2 linked regions of the Homo sapiens genome follow. The protein of the gene in region 2 purifies or fractionates together with the protein of the main gene of each other region. This does not show direct contact. Each region holds a gene or a part of one and is shown on either strand. Other genes may lie near its edges.

Region 1 (7,372 bases), on a different chromosome or scaffold from region 2:
CAGCCCCAGTGGATGCCAGGATCTCTCCAGTGAGGAGAGCCACAAGTCCTGGTGCCACTTTTTATTAGTCATAAGACCAACAGCCCCTTGCCCTATAAGCCTCAGTTTCCCCATCTGAAAAATCGGTCCAGTAATGCCAGCTGCATGGTGTTGGTGAAAGGACCACATAAGATAAAGTGACTTATAAACTCTCAAGTGTTGGCCGGTCATGGTGGCTCATGCCTATAATCCCAGCACTTTGGGAGGCTGAGGCAGTGGATCACCTGAGGTCAGGAGTTCAAGACCAGCCTGGCCAACATGGTGAAACCCCGTCTCTACTAAAAATACAAAAACTAGCTGGGTGTGGTGGCAGGCACCTATAATCCCAGCTACTCAGGAGGCTAAGAGAATCACTTGAATCCGGGAGGCAGCGGTTGCAGTGAGCCGAGATCGTGCCCCTGCACTCTAGCCTGGGCAAGAGTGAAACTCCGTTTCAAAAATAAAAATAAACTGTCAAGTGCTCTGCAGTTGTTGGTTGTCTAGTCATTTGCCCAAAAGACCCTCTTCTTCTCCCTGAGGCTGCTGTCTGTTCTCACTCAGAAGCCTCTCACCTGCCCCAGACTCCCAGGGTGCCTTCCCCATATTCCCACCACCCCTAGACTTTCCTCCTATCACCCAGGGTCCTCAATACTGAAGGAAAGCTCCCCACAACTCTGGGAGGCTCCCATACAGTCCTCTCCCTTATCACCTCGTCCCCTGCCCAAGCCAGCCCACCCAGGGGGCTCACACTTATAGTAGGCAAACTGCAGGTAGTGGTACATGGTGGCCACGAACTTGTCCACGAAGTAGCCACCCACATTGGGGGTCAAATTGGCCTCACAGTCCACCTTGCACTGCAGGGACTCTGCAAAGAGATCTGAGGGTGGGAGGCAGCAGTGAGAGGCTGGCATTGCAATGAACATCTCCGTCCCCCCAGTGGAGAAGACTCTAAATCCAATCTCTGCCTACTAAGCCAAGCTGCTTGTCCAGAAAATGTGTTGCTGTTGCAATCACAGGAGAGAATGTCTGTAAAGTGCTTGGCATACTATATGACAAGTGATGGTGAGGAAGATGACTGTGGGCTGGGCTGACTCACCACCCCTGCCACTCAACCACCACCCCAAGCCAGAGGGAGCCAGGGCATTCTGGGAGAGCAGCAGGTGAGGTCCAGAAATGGGGCAGAAGTCCAAACAGAGAAGCTAAAGGACAGTCTTTTTTTTTTTTTTTTTTTTTTGAGACAGAGTCTCGCCCTGTCGACCAGGCTGGAGTGCAGTGGCGCGATCTGGGCTCAATGCAACCTCCGCCTCCCAGGTTCAAGCGATTCTCCTGCCTCAGCCTCCCGAGTAGCTGGGATTACAGGTGCCCGCCACCACGACCAGCTAATTTTTGTACTTTCAGTAGAGACGGGGTTTCACCATGTTGGTCAGGCTGGTCTTGAACTCCTGACCTCGTGATCTGCCTGCCTCGGCCTCCCAGAGTGCTGAGATTACAGGTGTGAGCCACCACACCTGGCCAAGTACAGTCCTTTCTGCCCCTGCTCGAGGGACCCCAGGGTTAGAGATCCCAAGACTAGGTGTAATTTCTGGTTATCAACTGCTTTCTGCACACATCTGCTGGGTTACTTCTCACCGCTGCACCTTTGCATCTGCACTGCCCTCTGCCTGGAAGGCCTATGAACCCAAGCTTCCCAAACCCTTTAGGGATGTCACTGCCTCTACTCACTGATCCAGCCCCTTGGACACTCCCAGCTGGGGCCCCTGCACCCAGCGTCTTTCTCAACAGACAAGGCCTTCCTCCCGGCTGGCTCCTCCGCATTCGCAGTGCTCCACGTGCATGAAGGGGACATCTGCCTTACCGGGCCCTGTGGGTGAGAGGACCGCCCACCGTGGTCTGGGTGGCAGATACCTGCTATGGCCGGGTAGAAGTCCTTGAAGTCCACCTGCTCATGGGCCCCTTCACAGCCGGCCAGGCACCGGGCAAAGACTGCCAGGTACTCTGACAAGGCCCGCTCCATGTCCTCCGTGCTGCTGCGGAAATCCCCGCTGTTGTAGAGCTTCACAGCCCGGAGGAACACGGCCTGGAAGGGGCGTGGCAGGGGGAGTCAGGGCGCCCCCAACATCTCCCCTCCTCTACTAGCCCTCCTCTACAAGCCTCCTCCTGACCCTCCACCCCACCTCGTAGGGCTGGGCCTCTAGGTCCGTGAGGGACTCGTCGGCGACGTCCAGCATCCCCTGATAGTAGTTGAGATACTTGGCGGTCAGCTCGTGCTTCGGGTTCCTCTGGAGGAAGGTGTAGGCCGCCGCCACCGCCTTCTCCAGCCGGTTAGCCTGGTCGGGGGGTAGGGGGTGGGGGAGCGGGTCAGCAAGACCGGAGCTCGCGGCCCCGAGCGCACGGCGGGCTTCGTGCCTTGGGTGAAGATAACGCTCCTTCGACCGATCTGTGGGGAGCCACGACGCCCAGCCCGAGACAGGTCCCCGGGTGGGGGCGGGCTCCCACCTTGAACAGCGCGTAGTGCAGGTACTGGTAGGGCAGGCGGCTCTGGAAGTCACGCAGCAGCTGCCGCGGCGGGTAGGGCACCTGGAAGGCGGGCAGCGTCCGCTTGCAGCGCCGCAGGCAGGCGGCTCGCTCCAGGACGCGGCCGAAGAGCCGCAGCTCGCAGGCCCACTCGTCTGCGCGGCCGCCGTCGGGATCGGGCTTGGCCGCGGGCGCGGGGCCGCTGCAGTTGGCGTGGCAGAAGGCCTCGCTGTCGCGCAGGAGCCGGTGCAGCCGCAGCGCCGCCTCCAGGTAGCGCGCGCTCTCGCGCCAGCTCTCTCCCTCGTACTGCTCCAGAGCGTGCCCGTACGCCGCGGCCAGCGGCATCAGGTCCTCGGGCGGGAAGCCCCGGAAGCTGTACTTCTCGTACTGCGCCCCGGCGCTGCCCAGCAGCAACCACAGCAGCCCCCACGCCACCCGAGCCATGCCCGCCGCGCCGCCGGCTCTCCGGAGCTGAGCTGGCTGCCCCGCGGACGGAAGGGGACAGGGCCGGGCCCCGGGCGGGCGGCGCGCCCGCTGGGTCTTAGCGCCGGGCACGAGGCGGCAAGGTGGGGCGGGGCCTGGGTCACGACGTCTCCCCTCTTTTCCCAGAGGGTCCGATAGTGTCGTTAAGTCCTCTCCGTCGGCCCGGGCTCCTGCCTTGGGGGTGTCCCCTAGGTAGAGAATGCGTCGGGGAGCGCTTCCCGCCAGAGATGGGAAGCCCAGGAAGCCCCTCCCCATGCAAACAGTGCCCCCGCCTGAGATCAGGACACTGAGTGAGGGCCGCCTCCTCTGCGCTGCCCATACGAGAAGGAAGCCCTGGAGCCGGGCCTTCCGTCGCTGCGCCCTCCTGCACCCTCCGAGTGTCTCCCCCGCCCACGTCGGAGGCACACACCTGCTGTCACCTGCACACCTTGCGCTGCCACCACCCCCCACTCCATCTCCGTGCCCGTCACATCCCAAGTCACAAAGTCCTTCTTTCAGTCCAGCTTTTGCGGGACCAAGCTGCTCTTCCCTGGAGATGCCTTCCCTTGGAGTACAGCTGGGGTCACGGATGAGCACGGAGATGCCTCTCACACTCCGCGGCTTCACCACCCACCTGGAGGGGACTAGAATTCGAAGTGCCCGCGAAAGAAGCAAGGTTCATCTCCGCCCGGCTTTAGGACCCGGGGGCTCCGGAAAAAGTCATTGAACTTTTTTTTTTTTTTTTCCTTTGGTGTCCACTCAGAGTTCTCATCTTTCCCGAGCCTCTCTCCCTGGCCAGGCCCCAGGTCTCGCAGCCAGGGATGGAGATGGGGGGAGGGGGAACCTAGAGTTCTTTGTAGTGCCTCCCTCAGACTCTAACACACTCAGCCTGGCCCCCTCCTCCTATTGCAACCCCCTCCCCCGCTCCTCCCGGCCAGGCCAGCTCAGTCTTCCCAGCCCCCATTCCACGTGGACCAGCCAGGGCGGGGGTAGGGAAAGAGGACAGGAAGAGGGGGAGCCAGTTCTGGGAGGCGGGGGGAAGGAGGTTGGTGGCGACTCCCTCGCTCGCCCTCACTGCCGGCGGTCCCAACTCCAGGCACCATGTTCCCCGCGGGCCCCCCCAGCCACAGCCTCCTCCGGCTCCCCCTGCTGCAGTTGCTGCTACTGGTGGTGCAGGCCGTGGGGAGGGGGCTGGGCCGCGCCAGCCCGGCCGGGGGCCCCCTGGAAGATGTGGTCATCGAGAGGTACCACATCCCCAGGGCCTGTCCCCGGGAAGTGCAGATGGGGGATTTTGTGCGCTACCACTACAACGGCACTTTTGAAGATGGCAAGAAGTTTGATTCAAGGTAACCCCGGTTGGGCGCCCCCGGATTCACCACTCCGTCCCCTGAACCCGGGGTCCTGTTTCCTTGTTGCCTCTTTTAAGCTCTGCATCCCAATACTCTAACCCTAGACAGCACCCCTGGGGCCTCCCAGACACCCATCTCCCCAAAGATACCCTCCTGCCCCCACTTCCAAACCCTCACTTCTCAAAGGATCCCATTTCTTTCTCACAAGCTCTCCACATCCCGGAAAGGACTCGATAATCAAGGTGAACTGCCTTGTGTAGTTACCAGGGCTGTATGTAATGACCTGATGGAGAGGGGTGTTCTGATCTACAGTGTTGGGGGGAAGGGGGTGGTCCCTGCTGCTTAAGAACCCTGGGATGGTCTATCAGCCTGGACCCCGTACCTTTCCACCCACCCTGACTCCCCTTCTGGTTCCACTGTTTTCAGTGCCTTTGTGGTCAGAGAAGAGGGAATAGAACTTTTTTTTGGAGGGGGTGGGAGTTTTCAGCGGCTGGTGGGCAGGGAAAAAGGCTGGTGGGTATTATAAGAAGACAGCCGGCTGGACCTGGGGGTAGCGCGTGGCTCCCTGCGGAGGCCCTGTCTACGTGTCACACAGTCGGACATGCCACCCTGGGCTCCTTGGAGGAATTTCATTCCTCCCTCTCTGGTTCTCCTGGAACCCTCATCTCTCTCCATTTTAGGTACACCAGGCCAGAGGCACAGGCCGCCCATTTTTGCCAGCCTTGGGGTTTGTAAGGTGGCCTCCTGGTCTGACCCAGGCCTTTGGTCTGCCCCAGCAAGTCCACTTTTGTTAGCGGGGACAGGGCAGGGCTGTATGCCAGCCTCAGGGGTAAATCTAGGGTCCCAGTTACACACAGACCCCACAGCACACTGAAAGAAGTCAGTGTTTCTTAGACCCTCCTCTGAAACACACAACTCAGCCCACAGGAAATTAGTGGCCATGACTTTAGAGGCAGGCATATATTGGGGTAAGCCTACAAACTCCAAGAGTCCCAAGACCCTGGTTCAAATCCAGGCTATGACCATGGACAGAGAATTTTGTCTCTTTAGGCATCACTTTCCTTATCTGAAAAGTGGAGACAAAAACAGGACCTACTTGCTAAGGCTGATGTTAGGACTCCAAGGACATGGATGAATGAACGTAGGCTTCTCACAGGGCCTGGCAGTCCTCCAGCCAGTTCAGCACACATTAACATTGACCCTGAGGAAAACCATATGACCTGATGCTGTGGAACTTGTAGAAACTTAATGCAGAGCTTAAGCCTTCATAACAACACTGAGAAGGAAACAGTCCAGACTTAAAACCTGTCTGCTTGGTGGGCAAATTCAGATATAGGGTAGTAGCCAGAAGTGCAGCCCTGAGCCCTTGACTGCTAGGAGTGAGGCAGGGGTTGGGATTTAGGGGATGTCATCCCTGATGGGGACTCTGGGAGCCCAGCTCATGAGTGTTGAGCTTGGAAAACTTTTTGTTTTTTAGCTGGAGGCTCACTCTGTCGCCCAGGCTGGAGTGCAGTGGTGCCATCTCAGCTCACTGCAACCTCCTGGGTTCAAGCAATTCTCCTGCTTCAGCCTCCCAAGTAGCTGTGATTACAGGCGCATGCCACCACGCCCAGCTAATTTTTGTTTGTTTGTTTGTTTTTGTTTTTTGAGACACAGTCTCACACTGTTGCCTGGGCTGGAGTGCAATGGAGCAATCTCAACTCACTGCAACCTCCGCCTCTGCCTCCCAGGTTCACGTGATTCTCCTGCCTCAGCCTCCCGAGTAGCTGGGATTACAGGTGCACACCACCACACCCGGCTAATTTTTTTGTATTTTTAGTAGAGAGGGGTTTCACTATGTTGGCCAGACTGGTCTTGAAAAAGGCGGGTGGGTATTATAAGAAGACAGCCAGCTGGACCTGGGGGTAGGGCATGGCTCCCTGCGGAGGCCCTGTCTGTCTACGTGTCACACAGTCAGACATGCCACCCCAGCCTCGTGATCCGCCCACCTCGGCCTCCCAAAGTGCTGGGATTACAGGCGTAAGCCACGGCGCCCAGCCTTAATTTTTCATATTTTAGTAGAGATGGCGTTTCACCATGTTGCTCAGGCTGGTCACAAACTTCTGAGCTCAGGCAATCCACCCTCCTCAGCCTCCCAAAGTGCTAGAATTACAGGCGTGAGCCCCCGCGCCCACACAACTTAGAAAACTTTTTTTTTTTTTGAGACAGAGTCTTGCTCTGTCCCCCAGGCTGGAGTGCAGTAGCGCGATCTCTGCTCACTGCAAGCTCCGCCTCCTGGGTTCACACCATTCTCCTGCCTCAGCCTCCCGATTAGCTGGGACTACAGGCGCCTCCACAATTTTTTTTGTATTTTTAGTAGAGACGGGGTTTCACCATGTTAGCCAGGGTGGTCTCCATCTCCTGACCTCATGATCTGCCCGCCTCGGCCTCCCAAAGTGCTGGGATTACAGGCGTGAGCCACTGCGCTCGGCCAGAAAACTTTCTTAACCCATGGCCCCTTCAATTAAAAAAAAAAAAATCTCCCATCCTCACTTTACTTCTGAAAACTTAAAATAAATTAAAAGTGTATATAATTGGCTGGGCACAGTGGCTCACTCCTGTAATCCCAGCACTTTGGGAGGCCCAGGCAGGCAGATCACTTGAGGCCAAGAGTGACCAGCCTGGGCAACATGGCGAAAGCCCTCTCTACTAAAAATACAAAAATTAGCCAGATATGGTGGTGCATGCCTGTGATCCCAGCTGCTACTTCGGAGGCTGAGGCAGGAGAATCGCTTAAACCCGGGAGGTGGAGGTTGCAGTGAGCTGATTGCACCACTGCACTCCAGCCTGGGTGACAGAGCCGAGACTCCATCTCCAAAAATACATATGTATAAGTAAAAATAAATACATTAATTAAAAGTGTATAACTAAAAACAAACAAAAGCCATGGCACTTTTAGAATAGGCTTTTTTTTTTTTTTTTTTTTTTGAGAGGGAGTCTCACTCTGTCGCCAGGCTGGAGTCCAGTGGCACGATTTCGGCTCATTGCAA
Region 2 (7,021 bases):
TGCAAAATTTTATTTTTAAACGTTTTTTCTGAACTTAACAAACTGCAAGTGAAACCAATTACACTAATTTTTGACAAACTTTTTTCTAAAAAGGTGCCTTCCCAAATTAAATTTCAAGACAGGTTTGATTCAAACATCCTCCAAAACTGTGCGGGTTGTATATGACTGAAGTTTAGTTAATGGCAAAACACTGAACTAAACCAATTATGAGTAAAAAATAATTATTAGGTATTAAGAGTCAGCCAAAACAATGCTAAATACCAGTATTTAATATTATTTTATATTCCTGGGAACTTCTTGTTACTTCAAATGTACTAAGAAACCTGTCTTTACTTTCCTTGTCATTATTTCACTTTTTACAGAAAATTGATGATTGTCAGAGCTGTTAAGGTTTTTCAGTGACCTTAACCAGAAGCTGGTACAATTTTAATATGTTTAAATTAATAACTATGAATTAGTCTTTTAAAAATAATAGAGTATTGGAAGAGGCTTTTTCTTCTTTTCAGTTGTGTAAGACTGAGGATTTTAAGCACAATGTTGAAAGTTCTGTCCCTTACCTTGTACATGATAAGTGATTATGAAATAAGGAGACATAGTAATTGTTGCCTTTCTTTTTGTAGGTGATAAATTAGAAGAGTTTCTTAGATCGCTAAACAGCAGTAAGCCTCTCTACCTGGGACAGACTGGCCTGGGGAATATTGAAGAGCTTGGAAAGCTGGGACTGGAGCCTGGGGAAAACTTCTGTATGGGAGGACCTGGCATGATCTTTAGCCGAGAAGTTCTCAGGAGGATGGTGCCACATATTGGTGAATGCCTTAGAGAAATGTACACGACTCATGAGGATGTGGAAGTAGGAAGATGCGTTCGCCGTTTTGGTGGGACTCAGTGTGTCTGGTCTTACGAGGTAAGCATGGAGCTGTGATGAAAATGTTCACATAGTACATATACATGCCATTTTATAATCTAGGGCAGCGATTCTATTCATTCTCTCTGTATCTTTGTATTTACTTGAAAGTGATAGTAGCAGCCCTTAAGGGATACAAGAGTGGGAGATAACTTTCTCATTAGGTGTCAGGCCTGTCTGAGACTTTGTTATTAGCATGCCCCTTAACTTTAAGCAGTGGCCTATACTTATGGCCACATCTCTGGAAGATGCTTATATCCTCCCCTGCTTGATTTATTGGTGCTTATATACATGTGAATCTATTTCCCTTTTCTAACAAGAGGTTTAATTTTACTCTTCTCTTTAGCTGTAGCCTTTAGCATTTGGTACTGTGCCTTTTTATTTTATTTTATTTTATTTTGGTTAGGTGTGTAATGGCATCTCTTTGTTTTTAAATGGTTAAAATCTGAAGTTTCTTTGGATATTTTCCAGTGGAAATTTAACATATTTTTAAAAGTATCAGAAAAGTAAACTAATAGTGTATCATTTATGGTAGATGTATTCACAAAATTCCAATCACTGTATTTCCTTAGGCATACAAAAGGAATGAGTTGTCTGGAAAAAAGCAGAAGTTTAAATGGTGTGCAGTAGCTGCTTAGTATTTTTGACAGGTTCCCTAAAATTTGTTTATGTCTATTCTTATGCTATTTTCTGAAAAGGAACCATTATTTAAATAATCTTAGCTATTTATTTATTGCCGTGATCATTTTTATGAAATACTTAGAGATTTTTTCTTCAGAAATTGATTTTGAAATGTAATAACATTTTATTTAAAATAGATTTCCTAAAAGATAATTTTAGTAAAAATTTATTTAACATTAAAATAATGTATTGTTTTTAGTATAGTTTGGTTTTCAAGTAGTTGGAATTTAGTATTATTTTAGCTACGGAGTGCACAGCTTTGTAAATTATATCTTAACTCCTTTGCTTATGTTTTCAAACTTTTCATGTCACTTAGTATAGAAGAAACATTTTATGAAAATATGTTCCCTGTGAAGTCACCAAACACACAGTTTCATTTGTTTTTTTTGTATTGTAAGTGTAGTCTCACTATAGTTAATTTTGCTTTCTCTTTCATACTTTGTGGTATTTATACTTTGGGGACATATTTTATACATTACAGAAAGTAAAATTTATTAGTCATTTGAAATAGGCATGAAAATTTGAAATGATTATGTTGCTGATTTCTTTTGATAATAAAATGGTAATTTGTAAAAACTATCCTACAACTACCCTTTAGGATAAAAATTTATGTAAAAACATTACAGTTTAGAGACAGGTAATCTAGAATAAACTCAATAAAATATTTCTTCCTTTGTTATAAAACAAAGTAAAAGACAAAAATATTCAATACAGAGAACATATTCAGTTGATTTTGTTTACATGCTGTTATTGTTTTGCAGGTATTTACTTTGCATGGATAAGTAAAAAAATATTTGTGTGGATAAGTAAAAAAATCTCACCTGTAGTTAACAATATAGATGGGAAATTATTGTGTTTTATAGGATACTTTATTACCTTAACATAATATATAAAATTTTAACCAAGATAGTGTTTAGGTGTTCTTCTTTTCAAGTTCTCATTGATTCTGCTGTGAAGGCCTAGTCTTCACCTAGCATTCCATTCATTCATGTTCAAGACAGTAAGATATGCACAAAAATTGGGAGCTCAAAAATTGATTTAATATTTTATTTATAATATAGGCCTTTGTTCTGGTTAAAGTGAAGAGAAGTTATATTATAGATGTGCACCCTGTCTATTAGAATAAGTGCAATCTTAGATCCTTTTATTAACTGATGTAAGAGCAAACAAAAGAGATTCCAAGTCTTACAGGCTGTAACCTGGTGAATATAACATTTTCCATAACTTTTCGTAATACATTTGAATTTAGACTGACACTTGACCATCACTGACTTATGAATCCGTATAAAACTAAACTAATTGTCTCAACATGTTTTCCTAGCATTATAAAATATTTTCTAGATAAGTACTGTTGACTTTATGTTTTGCTAAGTTATTATATAGAATTTACTTTGTATTGGGATTTCAGTCATTAAAGGAGCTATTTAAACAGTATTTATTTAAGGGAGGCATTGATTTAATTCTAATAAAAAATCTCAAAAGTCTTATATAGAGAAATGATGGTAAATTTTATTACCAAGAGATATGTGAAAAAGCATTGTTAGCAAAACTAGTAAAGATACATATACAAAGAGATTATATCTAAATTTTAATACTAGATTGTGTTCTATGTTTCATGAGACACCTAAGTACGTAACTTGGGGCACAGCTAAACTGGTTATAACATTCACAGATCCCATACTTCACTTTCTAATTTGGATTTTATGTTAGTGGAAATGGTGTCCATATATGATACTGTTCATATTATATAGAAAGATTGGTCTATTCTACTCCAGGTTGGCATTCTCAGTAAAGGTGAGATTTTACATCTGCTCATTAAAAAAGCTATGAAATTGATCATTACTTTTTTTCCCATAGTTCTTTTAAAAGCACTATCTGTGATAGAATTTTGGTAAATTTTTAAATTTCTTTTATCTATGCCTTTCACAAATTTTAGGATTTTTTTTTTTTTTTTTGGTTTATCCTCCTAACAAAAGTTCTTTCAGAGTTGAGAGTCCTGTTAAGGTGGCATGTTCATGATTTTTAAGTTTGAATAGATGAAGTGTTCATGATAGAATGTCATCTTTTAAAAATGGTGAACGTGCTTACAGATCTTATAAAAAGAGAATTGAAATAATTATTAAATAAAATATATAATTGTATAGTTTCCTTGAATATAAGTTATATTTTTTAAAAATCCAGGATTGAAGCTTCTAGTATTCTTCTTAACTGCTAAACTGAAATTACTTTCTCTGTGTTTGTATATACTATTAAAAATATGTTGTAAAAGAGAAAGAGAGAGAAAGGTAATAGCGGGATATGAACTGGGGTTTGAGCCACCATCCTAACACTTACTAGTTTAATTGTCTTTTGCAAGTTACTTCTTTAAGTCGTGTGTAATTCAACTGAAAGTGGAGATTTTAAGAGTGTTTATCTCATACATTTCAGGAAAGATTAGGTGAAATAATCCATGTAAAGCCCTTAATGTAGTGTCTGTCACATAGTAAATTTTCAGTAGATGTTAGTTTTTATTGTTCTAATGTTATAGATATCACGTACTATATTATACAACATGGATTCATATATTTCACTTAATAATCATTAGTAATGGATGGGTGATTCATTTACATCAAAAGGGTCAAAATAAAAAATAAATTCTCAGAGAGTTAAGCTTTTTTTGGCAAAGAATAAGAAACCAGTATGTTGCAGTATTTTAGAAATATGAGGAATTCAGTATTAGTAAAACTTACTATGGGCTGGGCGCAGTGGCTCATGCCTGTAATCCCAGCACTTTGGGAGGCTGACGCGGGCGGATCACTAGGTCAGGAGATCGAGACCATCCTGGCTAACATGGTGAAACCCCGTCTCTACTAAAAATACAAAAAATTAGCCAGGCGTGGTGGCGGGCGCCTGTAGTCCCAGCTACTTGGGAGGCTGAGGCAGGAGAATGGCGTGAACCCGGGAGGCGGAGCTTGCAGTGAGCCGAGATAGCCCACTGCACTCCAGTCTGGGAGACAGCAAGACTCCGTCTCAAAGAAACAAACAAACAACAACAACAAAAAAACTTACTATGAAATATGGACACCTGTTTTAAAAATGCATTACAAATATCTGTTTCAGTCTTTGCACCTAATATGTATAAGATATATATAACTGAATTTGAGGATGTTGTGTGGAAAATATTACTTAACAAGTTATTATTTAATATACATATATAAAGAATCCCAAACAGATCTACATAAGGAAAAAAATTACAGTATAGATTTCTAAATTAATTGCCAGAACAATGGCCCCCTTTTTTGAATTTCTCTGGCATCTTCAGTAGGGAAGGAAGTGAGTAGTATCTCATTCTCCAGTCAACTCATGAACACCCAGGGGCTTGTCTCTCAAGGCAGTGGGAACCTCCTCCTGGTGTACCTCAGGTCTTTGAGGTAATGATCTGCAGCTTCTGGCCTTTCTCTCAATAAGGCCCAGGTGGTCTGGGGAAATATGTCTTGCTTGTTGGTCTCTTGCTCTTTTTCTCTGTCTTCTCTGCTCACTTTTTCTATTTCCTTCCGCTTGGTGATAGATAAAATAAATTTCAAATGTATTTTGATATGTACTGCTTTTCACCAGGTTCCTAGTAAATTAATGTGCTCATATAGGCCAATCCAGATATCTTAAAAGATCACTGGATGTGCACCCAGACCACAGTAGATCACAGTTAGGCCTCCAGCATGGTCTGACCTGTTCAGAATAAAGAGGCCTTTGGTTGAGGGTGAGCCTTATACAGACTGGTTCTTTGTGTGCCTGTGATCATTGGAGAGTCTAAATTGAGATTCTCCCTTTCCCACTTAGGATTGAGGCATCTTGTTTTAAGGCCATATGGCAGATGTTAATAACCAACAGACTTCATGGGTTATACCTCAAACTTTATAAGCAAAGATTACTAACTGAATGAAGCATGCATTCTATTCTATTCACTCTGCAAGTGTTAGAATTTATTGGCCTCTCCTGTTGGCAAAGATCACACTTTTGGTTGAGCTCTATCTTGGCTACTGCTTTTCTAGAGCTGCAATCTGGCAGTTTGGGAGGCTGCATATGGCTCTTAAACACTGTTTGGCACATAGAGTATTTTAAGGTTTTTTGCTTTTGTTTTTGTTTTTTGACACCTTTAGCAGAGGCAGGCAATCTACAGTTCCCTTCATGTCCTCTTATTATTTGTAAGACTCTTCTTTCACGTTTATTTTCCCTGCCTGGCTTACATAGGCATAAAAGTTTTGATCTTTTGAACTAGATAATGCACATATTGCAAGTTTCATGATAATATTCTGTAGAAAATGAAGTGATTTTCCAGTGAGACTGAGAGGCATATTTAAAATACTTTAATTTATGGAAGAGTTAATATGTTACAAATTTGGCCATTAAAATTGTATATCATATAACATAGTTACATTTTATTATAGATATGTTTTTAGTAAATAACAAAAATATTCTCACTGTTAAAAATTATTTATACATTCATGTTCATTTTGTGTATTAGCAGAACTGAAAGTTTTGTTTTTTGATTTTGTTTTTAACAAGATCACTTATATTCAATTCATAAAATAATTTTAATTCTGATTATTGTTCTTCTCCCTTTGAAGGAGTTTTGCATTTCTTCTAAGAGTCAGTTTAAGAATAGTTTGTATTTATCATTTTAATGTTTGCAGTAAAATAGAGCCAAAGAAGATATCTATTTCATTCAATTAAATGTTATTTCAAAGACAGCAGGGTTCTATGTTGGTAAAAATATTTATCTGTAGTTTTAAAAATTATTTCATAAGACTAACTAGATTTTCATTAGACTCCTTAAAGTGATAATTTTACACTAGAATGTTTTATGTTCAATCTTAGTTTCTTAAAGTCTGTAAACACCCTAGGAAATTACATTATTTCACAAAAGGATATGTTCTGGAAGTGTTTTCCTGAGCTTGTAAGTAATATCAGAAAGCTGTACCATATGAAACTGAACTATCAATAAGTTCTTAATAACATATTTTTAAGGTTAAAATATCTGTGTTATTCTTATAGGGCTGCTGCACATCCTTCTTAGCTTCCTATTCCATATAAATTTCCCTTTTTTTTTGACACAGAGTTTCACTCTTGTCGTCCAGGCTGGAGTGCAATGCTGCAATCTTGGCTCACTGCAACCTCCCCCTCCCAGGTTCAAGTGATTCTCCTGCCTCAACCTCCCGAGTAGCTGGGATTACAGACATGCACCACCACACCCAGCTAACTTTGTATTTTTTTTAGTAGAGATGGGGTTTCTCCATGTTGGTCAGGATGGCCTCGAACTCCCAACCTCAGGTGATCTGCCTGCCTTGGCCTCCCAAAGTGCTGGGATTACAGGCGTAAGCCACCGCGCCCAGCCAAATTTCCCTCTTTTCTAATGTTGATTTTACTCAATCATGAACATGTTTATGCCCCCAAAGTATA

The links. The genes of interacting proteins can lie anywhere in the genome.
Region 1: the proteins of CHSY3 (region 2) and P3H4 purify together in Homo sapiens (affinity purification with mass spectrometry; 2 studies listed by BioGRID and IntAct, with this or other methods). This does not show direct contact.

What each region holds. Positions count from the first base shown.
Region 1 is NC_000017.11:41,808,940-41,816,311, forward strand, and holds the start of P3H4 (endoplasmic reticulum protein SC65 precursor), read right to left. Parts: upstream 3,011-7,372; 5' UTR 2,977-3,010; coding exon 2,515-2,976; intron 2,346-2,514; coding exon 2,193-2,345; intron 2,096-2,192; coding exon 1,924-2,095; coding exon of another isoform or gene 1,741-1,923; intron 896-1,740; coding exon 767-895; intron 1-766. Other genes in the region: peptidyl-prolyl cis-trans isomerase FKBP10, read left to right, coding at 4,096-4,340. UniProt on the Homo sapiens protein: Part of a complex composed of PLOD1, P3H3 and P3H4 that catalyzes hydroxylation of lysine residues in collagen alpha chains and is required for normal assembly and cross-linking of collagen fibrils.
Region 2 is NC_000005.10:129,907,457-129,914,477, forward strand, and holds part of CHSY3 (chondroitin sulfate synthase 3), read left to right. Parts: intron 1-620; coding exon 621-904; intron 905-7,021. UniProt on the Homo sapiens protein: Has both beta-1,3-glucuronic acid and beta-1,4-N-acetylgalactosamine transferase activity. Transfers glucuronic acid (GlcUA) from UDP-GlcUA and N-acetylgalactosamine (GalNAc) from UDP-GalNAc to the non-reducing end of the elongating chondroitin polymer.